Regions from separate parts of the Homo sapiens genome. Here region 1 is linked to region 2. A link means that fine-mapping ties the variant in region 2 to the expression of a gene that starts in the linked region. Tissue or cell type: whole blood. Region 2 holds a variant in brackets; the other region holds the start of a gene. Each region is shown on its reference strand, or each on the opposite one. Region 1 holds the start of LINC01801 (long intergenic non-protein coding RNA 1801). Region 2 overlaps TRPM3 (transient receptor potential cation channel subfamily M member 3).

Region 1 (2,915 bases), not on the chromosome of region 2:
ATTGTTAATAGGATCCTTCACTCACTGGCCTTACATGTAGGCTACAGGCTAAATTTGTTGGCCCATAGGCTGCAGTGCTGACCCTTGCTGCGAAATATTTCTAGGAGAAAATACTCAAGACCTAAATCTATGGAGATATATATCATCCCTGTGGCCTGGAAAAGTTAATATTGGCAAGTTGTCCATCTTGGCCAGGACCCTGAAAGATAGTCTATGTTATTGTAAGAAAGATTGGTGTCCTTGGGGGCATGGGCTTTTAAGCCAGGGTGGAATCTGCAGAAGTCTGAGGTGCCATTTCCTGTCCCTATACCTGGGAGAAAATAGCTCTCAGACAGCTGTGTGGCTTTCTGCAAAGCTCAATTAGAAGAGAAATTATCAGGCGTGGTGGCGCATGCCTGCAGTCTCAGCTACTTGGGAAGCTGAGGTGGGAGGATCTCTTGAGCCCAGGAGTTCGAGGTTGCAGTGAGCTGTGACTCCAGCCTGTGTGACAGAGTGATACGCTGTCTGGAGAAATTCATCATGGAGATATGCTGATAATTGGTGGTCCCTGCCTACATCCTCCCAGGAGACTGAGCCAGACCCGGTGTGGCCAATGGTCCACTTATAAATTGAACCATGTTAGACCTCCTAACAGTGCAAGTACTCATTACAGCTCTGACATGGTGCTAAGCACCCCAAGTATTATAAACAAGTGTAATCCATTATGCACACACGGTGAGGCTACACCAAAGTCTGGTGGTTAAATGCATGATCTGTGGAATCAGACAGCATGGGTTCAAACCCTGGCTGGGGTGAGATGGGGAACTTTCTAAGGCTTAAATGCTGTTTTACCAAATATTTTAAAAGAAGTGAAAATACACTGCCTGTTAGAAAGGGAAGTTTTGGGGTGAAGCATGTGGGCAGTTTAGAATACCTGGTGTCCACCTCAGAAACCATCACAGCCCAGATGTTATAGGTTCAGGCCTTTCCAGGGCGGGCACATAGAATGTCCTCGCCTCCAAGGTTTGGAGAGCTGCGCTATAAAGGTTCTTGCAGGCGGTGTCCTGAGCCCAGAGCTGCCTGCAGGCGGGCAGGAGTTGTGGGGGTGTTGGCATGATCTGGTGTCCTCTGTGGCGGCTGCCTGAAAAGAAGAGGCCGAGGGTTCTTTGTCCTATGTCTCTCCGAATCTTAATACCTGCCCTGCAGCAGACTCCCTGGCTGCCAGGGCACACCGGTCACCCCGGTAGACGGTGCCGCCCCGCCCTCGCCAACCCCTTATCCCAACTCCCATTTCCAGCCTTCCAGGAAGCCCGATCCCCACCCCCGCACCATGTGAGCTGCTCCTCTACTCCGCGTAGGGGAGGCTCTGCCTCCGGTGACCCCGAGGGAAAGAGCTAGAGCACCCACAGGTGCTGACTGCTGCGGCGCTGAGGACGCTGCACACCCGTTCACCGGCTGACCCAGTGCTGCTGACAACCAGCGTCCGCGGCCCCCAACCGTCGAACAGAGCGCGTGGGACCATCTGGTGCCAAACGCCTGCAACGGAGTGCAGAAGGTCACGAGGCGCTAGAGACCGGTTGGGGGCAGGCGGTTGGGCCTTGACGCTCTTTGCTGGGCGTCGTTTTTTCTTCTCGCCCCCTTCGCTCCTGTGCGCTTAGTGCACAAGCCCTGGGCTCACACACCCTTTCTCTGTCACGTGTTCCAACAGCATCTCACCTGCATCGGGCTGAACAGGAGACCTCAATTTTCTCCTCTACTCCAAGGATTCGCCGGCTCACAATTGCTCTTCATATCTTCAGCAAGCTTTGTCTGTGCCCTGCCCCTCTGTCCCCCATTGCCTACCATACCCGCTCCCACCAAGCCTGCATCACCTCGCTGTCTCTGTGCCTCTCCCCGGCCCCCTTCCAGGCCTTTCTCCCACAATTTCTGGTCTTTGCTCCTGGGTGTTCCGTCGACCCTAAGAGGCGGTGTCTGATCTGGCAGGCTCAATGCCTTTCTCTGGCGCTGTCTGCACCTCCAATATATTCAGTGACTCAGGAAGGATCCATCCTGCAGGGCCCAGATAGACTCTCCTGTTTGCCACCTGAGCAGAAAGGCACCTCTGTGAGGTCTTTGCCACCCAGTCACCCTACCAGACCCAATCAGCACGTGGGAGACGTGGATGACAGGAGGACAGAGATGGAGAGGGACCAAAAGACTACATGGGGCCTTGAAGGATGTCATAAGAACGTTGCCTTTTACTGAGAGATGGGAACCATGGAGGGTTTCAAACTGCTGAGACTGGCATGATATGACTTAGGGCTTTTTTGTTTGTTTGTTTGTTTGTTTTTTCTTTTTTGTGACGGAGTCTCAGAGTCTTCCTCTGTCATCCAGGCTGGAGTGCAGTGGTGTGATCTTGGTTCACTAGAACCTCTGTCTCCCGGGTTCAAGACATTCTCCTGCCTCAGCCTCCCGAGTAGCTGGGATTACAGGCACCCACCACCACGCCCGGCTAATTTTTGTCTTTTTAGATGTTTTATCTCAGAGAAAGAGCTTCCATGTTCTCTAACTCTTGTAAACAGGTATTCTTCAAGAAACTTTACAATATAACATTCATACACAGAAGTGTACAAATCATCTGTCTATTCCTCAATACATTTTTGCAGAATGAACAAACCTATGTAATCTAGATCAAGAAGCAAAACACAGGCACCTCAGAATCAACCTCATGCTCATTCCTAGTCACTATGCCCCTCCCAAATTTTTAACATTATAGATTAGTTTTGCCTATTTAAAAACTTTATATAAATGGAACCCTACCATGTGTCCTGTTTGTGGCTGTGTCTTTTCATTCAACACTTCATAAAATTCATCCATGTTGTTGCTTTTAGCAGCACTTTATTCTTTTATATTGCTGTGTGATGTTCCATTGAACAAATATAATTTACCCATTCTAT
Region 2 (2,915 bases):
TATATTCCAGCATGAATGCATTTGTAAAAGGCTTGTCTTTCACGGGTTTAAGTAAAGCATTTTTGACATTTCATTAATTCCAGCCTAAGCAGCTTAACTTGTGATTTTGTTTATGTCTTTTCTCTGTATTCAGACATTTCCTTTGACATTCCTTAAAGCAGAATCTAACAGGGTCAAATATAGACAAAACTGCACAGCATGATTTGAGAATCTATGCTGGCTAGACACAGATGTCAAGGCTGAGAAAGTTCTTTTGAGGTGAACTAAACTACTAAAAGCTACAAAAATGGAGTGAATTGAGGTTGATATTTTCGTGTGTCGTTTTGGAAGGGCCAAAGGAAAATGTCCCATTCCAAGAGAGGATATACTGGTTTAACACAGAAGCTCAAATATCAATCCCATAAAAGGAGGGGAAGTGCCAATGAGCTGCACTCTGCAGTTCTGTCCAAGTTCTGTCCACTGACCAGTGCCTGAGCAGTGACAGAATTTGCCATCAGAGTCAAGGGAAGGGTCCACTTTACAGACAACTGCTGTCCAGCCCTGAGTTTGCCAGGCCACATGTCCTTTCCTTCTTTCCTTCTCCCTGCTGTTTCTGCCTGTGGAGAAGAAGCTTGGGCAGCAAAGCTCTTGCAGAACCTTCTACTGGGCTCTTAGTAAACAACGTCAGGGTCTATTCTCTTGTTACTAAACTTTGCTCTTAGTCTAGAGATGCATCTCTTATGGTGGCTTCTTGAAGGATCAGGTTCTCAAAGCTCTAGGCTGAGCAGGGGAAGCTACCTCCCTTTGCTTTCTTCCTTGAGACCCAACCAGAGAGAATGCTGATTCAGTTTCTGGATGTCTTCCTAGGATGTGTGCTGATGTCAGGACTGTGCCACACTTGACTTTGGAGGCTCATTCATCACTTTTGGATTCTTTCTGCTACATGGTGGACCAAATCGGCTGAGTGGCCACACTTGAGACTAGAGAGACATTCTCTCTCACCCTTAACCTATTGTCTAAAAGTGTGGCTGATGGAGTCTATATGCCTGGGTTCTAATCTTAGCTTTGCCATGAACAGGCTGGGTATCCTTGAGCAATTTAACCTCTATGACTGTCAGCTTCCTCATTTGTAAAATGGGGATTAGGACTGGGTGTGGTGGCTCACACCTGTAATCCCAGCACTATGGGAGGCCAAGGCTAGAGGACTGCTTGAAACCAGGAGTTCAAGATTAGCCTGGGCAATCTCTTAAAAAAAAAAAAAAAAAAAGGCCAGGTGTTGTGGTGTGCACCTGCATTCCCAGCTACTTGGGAGGCTGAGGTGTGAGGATCCCTTGAGCCCAGAGGATCCCTTGAATCCCATTGAGGTTACAATGAGCTATAATCACACCATTTTACTCCAGCCTGGGTGACAGAGTGAGACCCTGTCTCTAAAAATAAATAAATAAATAAAATGGGGATAATAATAGTGCCTATCTTGTGGGACTTTTGTGAGGATTCCATTAGTAAGTATGTGTAAAGCACTTAGCACTGTTAAAACAGTATTAGTTCACAGTGTGCCAGTCTCCAATATAAGTAGTTTACAGGCACACTTTTTACACGAGACAACTACTTGTGAGGTAGACAACATTATTGTTCCTGTGTTTGAGGTTATAAAATTGTGCCCAAGGTCACACAGCAAGTAGGTAATGGGGCAGGATTCTGGCTACAGAGCACATGTTCAGCTGAAATATTCCA[T/A]AAAGATTCAGTATTACTATTGCCAATTTTCTTCTAATGATCAAACTATTATATTCTATTCAGAGGACAAAACTATGGTGAGATTGTTAGGGAAGACAGTCGTCTGTTACAGAGCTGAGCCGACTCCTCCACAGATTTTTATACAAATCCTCAAACTGAAACAAAAGTTGGCCTTTCATTCAGTAAGTCAGGGATTATGTCTGCAAATAGATCTTTAGGAGAAGCCTACTGGAAGCAAATATTGTTTACCTGCAGGAGAAACAATTCACACTGCTGTCCTACTAGGATAATAATGCAAAGGCCTTTTGTCACCTGAGCAAAATTAATTTGTGATTTCACCCCTTATAGCTTCTGGGTCACTACAGCAATGGTCATTGGTGGGGGTGGTGAGGGAGGGTGAGGCATATTGAGAAAGTCCTTATGGAGCTGTTGCTTGATGACTTCCAAGCTATGAAGCCTTGTTTGTCCCTTTAACAGAATGTGATATTTTTAGCCTCTGCACATGAGCCAGTGGCAGTCACGCTGCTCAGGCGGGGGTTGCAAGAAGCTGTCCCATGTCCAGCTGCCCCCTTCCCTCTGCAGAACAAAGCCTCTATGCTCTATAATTATATGAGGAAGAGCTAATAAAAGCTTTGCATACAAACCTCAAAATTCAATTAGTGCTGTAATTGTGAGCCTGACCCTGAAGACAGATACAGGCTTAGCTTCTGATCCGCAGAACAGTACCAGTTCAGTGAAGCCGGCTGCTCTCAAATCATGGATTCCCTTTCCTTCTCTGTGTGCTGAGACAGACACATCATCTGGTTGTTTAAAAAGCTTTGCTTGTTTGGAAAATGTAGAGTGTCTTGCTTTAGAATTTCATTGGTTTGTCCTGCACCACTAGCTGGCTGCAAGACTTCACATATGGGTGGACCCTATGGTCATGCTATTTACACTTTTCCAATACCCTGGTCTCAATACTGAAATGAAAGCACTCCATGATTAAACCTGGTGGAAGGCTGGGAACAGATGTCTGACCTAAGGAGTTACTGAATCTTGAGCATATCGGTGGGACAAGTGGATTAGGAATTCTGCCCATAGAGAATAACTGTGCAATGTTTTCTTACTGTGAGCTCCATGTCCTCTTCCTCTTTTTCCTTTGTGGGCTTCTCTGGTTCTTCTGCCTCCTTCTCTTGGAGGTGGATTTCCTGGGCCTGAGACAT

Evidence for each region.
Region 1: it holds the start of LINC01801, and the variant in region 2 is fine-mapped to the expression of LINC01801 in whole blood (TOPMed, PIP above 0.99).

The regions. Positions count from the first base shown.
Region 1 is chr19:34,831,417-34,834,331 of GRCh38, forward strand. It overlaps LINC01801 (long intergenic non-protein coding RNA 1801), which reads right to left and starts at 1,453. Exons shown (of 6, transcript NR_033982.1): 1 at 1,309-1,453; 2 at 914-1,120.
Region 2 is chr9:70,613,089-70,616,003 of GRCh38, forward strand. It overlaps TRPM3 (transient receptor potential cation channel subfamily M member 3), which reads right to left. Exons shown (of 26, transcript NM_001366145.2): 18 at 2,820-2,915. Among named protein-coding and RNA genes, the nearest start is that of MIR204, 200 kb to the right of the region's middle. The variant T/A (reference allele first, on the strand shown) is at 1,714.